Regions from separate parts of the Homo sapiens genome. Here region 2 is linked to region 1. Evidence: fine-mapped expression QTL. A gene starts in region 1. The other region holds a variant in brackets. All regions are shown on one strand. Distances are from middle to middle.

Region 1 (5,384 bases):
TGATGATCTAGCTCCTTGTACATCATCTTTATATAACAGTTAGTTCACTGACATCATTATTTGATTACAGGTCTGTCTTTTTCAATAGGCTGGAATCCCTAAAGAATAGGAACATACTCTTCTTATCTTTATCTATTTATTTCTTTGCTTTCAGTCCAGCATATGAAACTATCATGCCATATTAATAACTTATGAAAATATAAAAGAGTAGGCTGGGCACGGTGGCTCACGCCTGTAATCCCAGCACTTTGGGAGGCCGAGGAGGGTGGATCACCTGAGGTCAGGATTCCAGACCAGCCTGACCAACATGGAGAAACCCCATCTCTACTAAAAATACAAAATTAGCCAGGCATGGTGGTGCCTACCTGTTAATCCCAGCTACCTGGGAGGCTGAGGGAGGAGAATCGCTTGAACCTGGGAGGCAGAGGTTGTGATGAGCCGAGATCACACCATTGCACTCCAGACTGGGCACCAAGAGCAAAACTCCGTCTCAAAAAAAAAAAAAAAAAAAAAAAATATATATATATATATATATAAAAAAAGAAATACTTTACTGCCAAAACTACAGAATACTCAAACTTATAATTAACATCACAATTTATGTATGTGTGTGTGTGTGTGTGTGTGTGTGTGTGTGTGTATGTGTGCGTATGGTCTTACGTGGATATAATTAGCTTACCTGGCATCTCTTTTGGACCACCCCAACTGATTTGCACGAACTGCAACTTCTTGGTTAAGATGCCTGGCAATAGTTTTTATTTCTGGCTGCAAATTTTCCACCTAGCTAAAAAATAGGTTTTGTTATGAGCACATAAAGGATCTTTATTCATAATGACTCATAATCTTTCACATTATTCCCTCGAGTCATTTAAAAATGTAGTTTACTGATCATATCAAGAAATCTTAATTCTAAGCACAAGATGTTAATTTGCTTAAAATGTCCTCAGTCACAACCAAATTCACAATGCATACTTATCCATGTGATCCTGTGCAAGTAACTTAACCTCTAAAATCATGTTCCCTCACATATAAAATATATAACAGCACCTACTTCACAGGGTTACAAATATTAGATAAGAACTGCACCCTGGGCTTTACTGTTCCATCTCTACATTTCCTAGTAACGTAAGCGGAGAAAACAGCAGTTTGTTAAGAACCTTTAATACACTGTGATAGCCACAAATCAAAAGTAAAAATAGCATTTATTCCTGCCCTGTGCTCATTCTTCCTGTAAAATGGCTCACTGCCTTAATGTTGCTGCTGATTCCGTTCCTGTTTTGTTTCCGGTTTTTTTTCCCCATGCTCACAACCTGAAAACAAGAAAGCCACTATTTTTGAAATATCCCATTTGAATAATCAAGCACTTTAACCCGTATTATCTGACTTGCTCTGATAACGCTGTGAAGTAGGCAAGGAAGGTACTGCTAGCCTGATTCCTCAGAAAAAAGGATTCAGCATTAAAAGGTCAAGTAACTGCGACCAACCAGACACAGTCTTAGTCGGGTCTGGAGAGGAAACAAGTTCGCAAACTGTTAGTCTAGTAGTTTCTTCCTAATAAGAAAGACCAGCTGGAATACTTTGGGACGAAAGACACTGCAGACATACTGGCTATTAAAACTTTTAAGACATAAATTTTGTAGGTTTCGCCAACACAATTTCTTCTGCGACTGATTTCTTTGTCTCCGTTCCCCGAGAGCAAGTATAGTAACCACTTGTGCTTGGAGCACAAATCCAGTAAGACAAAAGAAATGACAGGTACACGTGTCACAAAGTATCTTATTTAACACACCTAATGCTAGTTCAATTTTTTTTAACGCTAAAATGGTCACAATGAAATGGTCACGATGATTAAACACTAAGCACTGCAGAAGGCAACATCGTGCGATCGAAAACCCTGAGTGAATGTCGGCCTTCCTCCGCCGCAGGGGTTGCAGCGCAGGGTACGCGCACGGCTCGGCGCCCCTCACCTTGGCCAGGATGTAGTGCTGGTAGGCTGCCAAAGGCAGCGTGACAGCACCCCGTAAGGCCACGGTGGAGAGCAGAATGCTGCCCCACCAGGGCAGGCCCGTGGCGGCGTGCACGCCGAGCAGTACTTCCTCCGCAACCCGCACCGGCGAAGACGCGGCCAGGGCCTCGTACCAGCCGTTCGCATGTACTGCAGAGACTGGTGCCACTGCCCACACTGGGAGAGTGGGGCGCTTGGCGCCGCTCGTAGGAACCGGCGCAAGCGGCAGGTCCCTAGCCCAAAGCTGCAGGGCAGGGAGCGGCCGCAGCCACCGACCGCCGAGCCGGCACAGCATTTCTGCACCACGGCGGAGCCCAGATCCCGGGCCTCACAATCCAGCGGACATACACCGGCCAGCCAAGGCTGATACGCGCACGCGCCAGCAACAGCGGGCATAAAGCGCATGCGCGCCTGCCTGCAGCCGCGATTGACCTTCCCAGTCAAGCCGGTGACGTCTTGCGTCGCAGTGGATGTGACGCAAGAGATAGGAAAGTCCCGCCTTTCCCACGCGGCACTGGACAGGCCTACTGCGCACACGCGAAAGTTTCCCGCTGCTAGGGTGTAGTTAGTCCGAGGCCGGACCAAAACTGCAGAGACATGGGTGGAGCCTGCTGCCCTCCGCCAGGCTGGGTGTTCTTTAGGGAGCTCTCGCCTTGTAAAGTTCATCTACACCGTGTAACTTACCATTCTTTTTCACTAAAGCTAATAGTCATTTGTAGTGGAATTATCCTTGCTCGGTTTTTTGTGACCAGAAGCTGATCCCCAACCTCTTTACGTGCACCTGATTGCTTCCGTTAGCGATTACGATAGATTATCATACTCAAGAGTCACACGTTGCTAAAGTACCTGCTTGTAGAGAGACGCATGTTTCTTGCTGACTCTGAGTGTTAAGCACGAGGGATAGTTCAGTCTCTTGTAGATTTAATTGGCCCATCTGTTCCAGTTAGTATTTGGACCACCAACTGCAAACTGAATTTCTTCGGTGTTTTGTCTTCCATGATAAATAGCAGCAAAAATCTTATAGTAAAAGTATCATCTCTTTATTTAAGGGAAACTATCACTGGCAGTACGGTGAATTCCTTGAGTTTACTTGTATCCTATATAAGCTTTAAAGAGCCTGAACAGCAGCACTGGCTGTCTTCTGGTTTAAAGGAATACGTTGAATCTACATGGACTATATAGTTTTAACTTTTGTGTTCCTGGAAACAACAAAATGGAATGTTGTGGAGGAGTTTCCTCACCGAAGGGTCACCCCTAGACTACAGACTAAAATATGTTGTGAGGAGTAAACCTTGATTTTTATTTATTTATTTATTTACTTACTTAGGAAAAGAAGCCTCCAACAATGTTGGGTAATGTCAAACGCCAGCTATTGTTTGCCCTTCACTGTGCACCTAACCAAGGGTACCCTACGATAACTTTCTCAGGATTCTGGAATTCATCTGCTTTCCAAACTGACTGATAAATCTATACATGAATTTTTAAATGTGTTTAAACACACAGCACAACACACACTATATATAAACTTTTTCTAAAAGAAAAACCTACCAATCTATTTCTTTATCCATTTATTAAGCTAACAAAAAAGCCATCAGTTGCTACTGACTACTGTTCAGCTGTTCATAATCTGAACAGAATTTTAAAGTTATTTTTGCTAGACACAGTGGATCACGCCTGTAATCCCAGCACTTTGGGAGGCCAAGATGGGAGGATACCTTAAGGGCAGAAGTTAGAGATCAGCCTTGGCAACATGGCAAGACCTCATCTCTACAACAAATACAAAAATCATCCAGATGTGGTGGCTTGCATCTGTGGTCTCAGCTACCAGGAGGCTAAGGCGGGAGAATTGCTTGAGCCCCCCGGAGTCCAAGGCTGCAGCGAGCAATGATCGAGCCAGTGCACTCCAGCCTGGGTAGCAACAAGATTCCCATCTCTTTAAAAAAAAAAAAAAAAAGCAAGAAAAGAAAAAAAAAAAGCTGTAAGCTGTTCTTCAATTCCTAAGATTTAATTTTGTGGAGTTCTATCGGGGTCACAAATGAGATTTCAGTGTTGGAACACATTTTTTGCTATACATTGTGTTCATATATTACATTCTTATTTTAAAAAGTATTTCCTTAAGTTTGAATATTGATCTAAATAAAATTTATGAATATTTAGTTTCTGCTAATTTCATATATGTGTATAAACACATTTCTTAATCTATATAACAGGGATGACTAGAACTTGCTATCTACTTGGTAGAGGATGTTGGGGGAAGTAGTTGTCAATTTTAAAGCCCAATGCAAAAGAAAAGTGTTACTACTAATGTATAGGTACTGTTTATACAACATTGTGATTATTTTGTATCTTTTGTTTCAGAGTACAGTACAAAATGATCTACAACTATTGAGTGGACCAACTGAAATCATTTGTCAATCCTCTTTGCAAATGAACTTGTGCAATGTATTAAAACATTTTTAAAGGTTCAACATTTATAATTAGCTTATTCCAGTCTTTGATATTAGTGTTATGTCAGTTAATTTCTCAACTTTAAATTCCTTAAGAAGAGACTACGTATTACATTTTCTTTCTGCAGTCTCTGTAATTCTTAACCATCATGGTGCCAAACACAGGAATGGAGCTTGCTATGGACTGAATATTTTTGTCCTCCCCAGATTCTTTTTTGAAACCCCAAGGTGATGGTATTTGGAGGTAATTCGTCTTAAGGGTAGAGCTCTTGAATTGGGTAAGTGCCCTCATAGGAAGAAACAAGGCTGGGCATGGTGGTTTACACCTGTAAATCCCTGTGCTTTGGGAAGCTGAGTGGGGAGGATCACATGAACCTAGGAGTTTGAGGTTGTAGTGAGCTATGATCATGCCACTGCACTCCAGCCTGGGTGACAGAGATCCTGTCTCTTGGAAAAGACAAAAGCAAGATGACCTTTTTCTGCCCTACACAAAGAAACTGAAAAGGAAACAGCCATCTGCAAACCAGAGAAAAGGCCCTCAACAGAAACCATAAAGGCTGGCATGTTGACGTTAGACATTGTAGCTCTCAGAACTGTGAGAAACACATTCTGTTAATCTCCTCAGTCAACAGTATTTTTGTTGTAGTAGCCTGAATTAAGTGCTGAAAATTTGAATATGGGGTGTAATTATCATGTAATCATTTAGTCTTCTCTTTTCCCAAATATGCCTTCTGAAATGTTTGTCAAACTAAATGACTGTAGCTTACTAGGGTATATATAAAACAACAACAAAACACCTTTAAGAAATAAACTATTTCCATGAGCAATTGTTAGTGATCCCTTAGAATCAGATTAAGATTTCAGTTTTTCTTTCTTACTTAAGGCACTACTTCTCAAAACCAAAGCTACCTAATTTAGAATTGGCTTTTTTC
Region 2 (5,384 bases), 160 kb before region 1:
GTGAATACTAGAGTCAATCTCCAAAAAGCACTAAAGTCTAATGAAGACATTCAGTACAAAAGCCCCTGTTTTCATTTGATTTTCGGCTTATGTTGTTATTATGTTTTCTTTTTTAGCATGTTATGTTTCCTTTAAGATGCATGTTTTTAACATTTTTGACAACTCTAAAATCAGAAATTGTCTCACAATTGAGGTGATAAGAAGCATTGTGTATTAGTTTAATTGACTGTGATTTTCTTTTAGCAGGTAAAAAAATAATGATGTATCAGAAATCAGAGGCATCTTAAATTTCATTAACTATGTTGATAACTCATTAGGAATATAACTAAGGTTCTGCTCTCCACATACTAAACTGTGCAATGAAGGAATCAACTCGACTTTGGCCTACTCTCTGTTTTATTAGGCATGCAACCACCACCCCCTACAGGTAGGAGGATTCTCACCACTCTGGCTAGAATTTGCAGGTGCAGAGCTGGGAGGGATGTTATCAACAACTCCTCACATTCTCCATTCAGTTTCCTCAGGTTGCTTTAGCAGCCCAGAAGAAAGTCACAGATAGGAAATGAGGCAGATCAACAGTTTTCCCATTTAAAAAGAGTATCAGGGAACAACTCTCCATCGTCACCCTTTCCCTGCTTCATAACTGTACAAAGTCAGTTTTTTGGTATAAAACTAATAGGCCATCATTTTAGTTCAGGCCAGGCCAGCACCACCCCTCATCAGGAATACCTAATTGCTTTCCAACTGGCCATTCCCCTTTCACACCCTTACTAACCCCAGATGCAATCCATTGGCAAATCCTGTAAATGTCTCCAGAATCCCATGACTTCTCGCTTTCATGCCACCGTCCTCTTCTGCAATAATCCCCACTACCTGCTCTCTTCCTTGGACCTCACTTCCCTTTAGTCAATTCTCAACCCAGAACCAGAGTGGTTCTTTTTAAATGGCAGATGATGTGACTCTTCTGCTCCGAACCCTCTAAAAGCATTCTTTGTCCTCAGAGGAAAAAAAAAAAGCCATTGTAGTCATTACAATGGCCTACAAGCCTTTACATCAGAGGTCAGTAAATTATAACCTGTTTTTCTGAGGGAAGAAAAGTCTTATTTGGAACACAGCCACATCCATTCATTTATGCATTGTCTATAGTTCCTGTCATGATATGATGATAGTCATGCATTGATTATTCATTTAATATTAGTATTAGCATGCAATAAGATATAGCATTTAGTCAATAATGATTTCAAGAGAAGAACTGCTTATGAGGACATAAATCTGAATGGGAGAAGACCTAGATTTCTCCAGAGCTGTGCGTAATGAGGACAGTCACAAATTAGGGGAGTAGATGGGAAGTGGGCACTCCTGAGCTCTGCAAGTGTGAGCAAGAATAGTGGTTGAGCCATTTGGAGAAGGCACAATAGGTGAGTTAATGAGAAGATAAATGTAGCTGAGAAAATGAGAGAGGTTTTCAGCAGCTGCCTTGAATACAGTGAAACTTGGGAAGATGATGGAACAAATGATTAAAAGTATTCTAGTGAGTATTTCTAGGAAGCTTCTTATATGTTAGGCATTATAAAATCTTTGGGCCAGCTTCATTAAGGAAACTACACCAAAAGCCCTACATGCTCAGAAAACTATAATACTTCCATACCAGCAACATCTTTAGTGGCTCACAGAGGGCAAAGGTTGTATTTTCTTCATCTTTGTATTCCTGCAGCTAGAATAGCCCCTGGCAAATAGTAGGTTTTCATTAGCTATCTGTTGAAGCCGGGGGTAGTGACATATGCTGGTAATCCCAGCACTTTGAGAAGCTGAGGCTGGAGGAACACTTGAGCCCAGGAGTTACAGACCATCCTGGGCAGGACAATGGGACCCCATCTCTACAATTTTTTAAAAAAAATTAGTTTGGTATGGTGGCATACACCTGTAGTCCCAACTACTCAGGAGGCTGAGGCAGGGGGTCCCTTGATCCTAGAAGTTTGAAAGAGCAGTGAGCGATGATCATGTCCCTGCACTCCAGCCTGAGTGACAAAGCAAACTTCTAATAAATAAATAAATAAATAAATATCTGTTGAATTAATTCTAAGACTTAAAAAACTGTTTTAATCTATCTTCTTATCAGAGTCGAGGTGTGGTAGTTAGAGTAACACCAAGGAGAGCCTAAACTGCTTTTTATTGGTCACCGTTTGGGATAGAGGTGCACAAAACTATCGTTTAAATTATAAATGTTACCTAGAAGTGATAACAAATGGAACAATAATGAGTCACTGACACTACCACCAAAATAAAATTTTTAGTTTCATTCTTAGTGTTTGAAAGAGGTTCAGGAGAAAGTGACGCAGGAAAAGTCATTATAATGAAGGATAAAACCACTGCGTAATGGGGAATGAAGAGAGAAGCTTGACAAAAGAAGACAATAGAAGCCTATGAAAATGACCAATTCATTATTTTAGCCATTGACTTTATTATTTCTTGCTCCATATAATTAACATCATGGCTAAAAACAAGGCAGAAATTCTTTTAGGAATAAAATTGTCACAAGCCCTGCCTTTCCCTTCCCCATAAGGTTGATCTAACTCCATTAACTGTCAGTCTTTGATGTAAAGTATCTTACCTGACCTTCCTTCTTAGCCCCTACTGAGAATCCAAAGTAATCTAAGAGCTGTGCATTCCATTGGCAATTGGCATCTTGTAGTTGCCAATTTGGAGAAAATAATAATCTCCCCTATACTTCACCTTTGTGGATGTATTTTCCTTATTGTTTGAGAGGAACATAATACAACAGTAAGCAGATCAACTGGAACCCTTCAATCTGTAAATAAAAGGGCATTGTAAGCTACATGTTACACAGAACTCATTTGCCCAGAAATCTGATTTTATTGTTAGGAATTGGCAGCCCATCCCCAAACATGCACTTTTAATTTTTCCTGAAAAGACCACTATTTTTGTACTGATACTTCCCCACAAGTAGCATCTGATGTATTGCTATTGTCTTTGGTTAAATTAAAAGTGATGCTATCCAATTTCAAGAGCTTCACATAAATAATACCTTATGAGAAAGAAAATCTGTAAGGAATAAATTCTGGATTCAGGTACTGGAATCTTTGGTAAAAGCTTGGACTTGTGGTGAAACTGGCAATGAATTATGAATACTATTTGGCTTTTGGCTATGAGAAGGATAGAAAATCAATCCCAGAATTTCCAAGTATTACAAGCATACCTGAGATGGGTGGTAATATGGTTTGGCTGTGTCCCCACCCAAATCTCAACTTGAATTGT[A/G]TCTCCCAGAATTTCCACGTGTTGTGGGAGGAACCCACAGGGAGATAATTGAATCATGGGGCCCCGTCTTTCCTGTGCTATTCTCATGATAGTGAGTAAGTCTCACGAGATCTGATGGGTTTATCAGATCTAATGGGTTTCTGCTTTTGCTTCTTCCTCATTTTCTCTTGCTGCTTTCGTGTAAGAAGTGCCTTTCACCTCCCACCATGATCCTGAGGCCTCCCTAGCCATGTGGAACTGTAAGTCCAATGAAACCTCTTTTTCTTCCCAGTCTCAGGTATGTCTTTATCAGCAGTGTGAAAACACAGTAATACAGTAAATTGGTACCAGTAGAGTGGGGTGTTGCTGAAAAGATACCTGAAAATGTGGAAGCAACTTTGGAAAGGGGTAACAGGCAGAGGTTGGAGCAGTTTGGAGGGCTCAGAAGAAGACAGGAAAATGTGGGCAAGTTTGGAACTTCCTAGAGATTTGTTGGACTTTGCCCAAAATGCTGATAGCAATATGGAACTTGTTGGGAACTGGAGTAAAGGTGACCCTTGTTATGTTTTAGCAAAGAGACTGGTGGCATTTTGCTCCTGCCCTAGAGATTTGTGGAACTTTGAACTTGAGAAAGATAATTTAGGGTATCTGGTGGCAGAAGAAATCTCTAAGGAGCAAAGCACTCAAGAGGCGATTTGGGTGCTGTTAAAGGCATTCGGTTTTATAAGGGAAGCAGAGCATAAGTGTTTGGAAAATTTGCAGCCTGACTATATAATAGAAAAGAAAAACCCATTTTCTGGGGAGAAGAATTCAAGTTGGCTGCAGAAATTTACATACGTAGCAAGGAACCTAATGTTAATCTCCAAAACCATGGAGAAAATGTCTCCAGGCCATGTCAGAGACCTTCAGCGCCCCTCCCCTCACAAACCCAGATGGCCAGGAAGAAAAGGTGGTTTCGTGGGCTGGGTCCAGGGTCCCTGTGCTGTGTGCAACCTGGGACTTGGTGCCCTGTGTCCCAGCCACTCCACCCGTGGCTGAAACGGGCCAACGTACAGCTTGGGCTGTGGCTTCAGAGGGTGGAAGCCCCAAGCCATAGCAGTTTCCATGTGGTGTTGAGCCTGTGGGTGCACAGAAGTCAAGAAGTAAGGTTTAGGAACCTCCACCTGATTCAGAAGAGGTATGGAAATGCCTGGATGCCCAGGCAAAGGTTTGCTGCAGCAGGGGGTGGGAAACCTCTGCTAGGGCAGTGCCAAAAGGAAATGTGGGGTTGGAGCCCCTAGAGTCCCTAGTGGGGCAATGCCTAGGGGAGCTGTGAGAAAAGCGCCACCATCCTTCAGACCCCAGAATGGTAGATCTACCTACAGCTTGCATAGTGTGCCTGGAAATGCCACAGACACTCAATGCCAGCCCATAAAAGCAGCTAGGAGGGAGGCTGTACCCTGCAAAGCGACAGGGGTGGGGCTGCCCAAGACCATGGGAACTCACCCCTTGCATCAGCGTGACCTGGATGTGAGATCTGGAGTCAAAGGAGATCATTTTGGAGCTTTAAAATTTGACTGCCCCACTGGATTTCGGACTTACATGGGCCTGTAACCCCTTTGTTCTGACCAATTTCTCCCATTTGGAATGGCTGTATTTATCCAATATGTGTAACCCCATGGTAGCTAGGAAGTAACTAGCTTGCTTTTGATTTTACAGGCTCATAGGCAGAGGTAACTTGCCTTGTCTCAGATGAGACTTCGGACTGTGGACTTTTGGGTTAATGTTGAAATGAGTTAAGACTTTGAGGGACTGTTGGGAAGGCATGATTGGTTTTGAAATGTAAGGACATGAGATTTGGAGGGGCCAGGGGCAGAATAATATGGTTGGGCTGTGTCCCCACCCAAATCTCAACTTGAATTGTATCTCATAGAATTCCCATGTGCTGTGGGAGGCACCCAGGAGGAGATAATTGAATCATGGGGGCCATTCTTTCCTGTGCTATTCTCATGATAGTGAATAAGGCTCATGAGATCTGATGGGTTTATCAGGGGTTTCCACTTTTGCTTCTTCCTCGTTTTCTCTTGCTGCTACCACGTAAGAAGTGCCTTTTTCTTCCTGCCATGATTCTGAGGCCTGCCCAGCCATGT

The links. PIP is the estimated chance that this variant, and not a neighbour inherited with it, causes the effect. A credible set is the group of variants that fine-mapping cannot tell apart.
Region 2: its variant is the best candidate, but not a certain one, in a credible set for the expression of COX18 in whole blood (INTERVAL, PIP 0.60).

The regions. Positions count from the first base shown.
Region 1 is chr4:73,067,350-73,072,733 of GRCh38, forward strand. It overlaps COX18 (cytochrome c oxidase assembly factor COX18), which reads right to left and starts at 2,367. Exons shown (of 6, transcript NM_001297732.2): 1 at 1,968-2,367; 2 at 680-780. The coding sequence starts at 2,300. It overlaps LOC112268467 (a long non-coding RNA gene), which reads left to right and starts at 2,597. Exons shown (of 2, transcript XR_002959797.2): 1 at 2,597-2,680; 2 at 4,364-4,473. RefSeq lists enhancers at 1,686-2,201, 2,136-2,655, 2,202-2,718.
Region 2 is chr4:72,909,243-72,914,626 of GRCh38, forward strand. No RefSeq gene overlaps it. Among named protein-coding and RNA genes, the nearest start is that of COX18, 160 kb to the right of the region's middle. The variant A/G (reference allele first, on the strand shown) is at 3,277.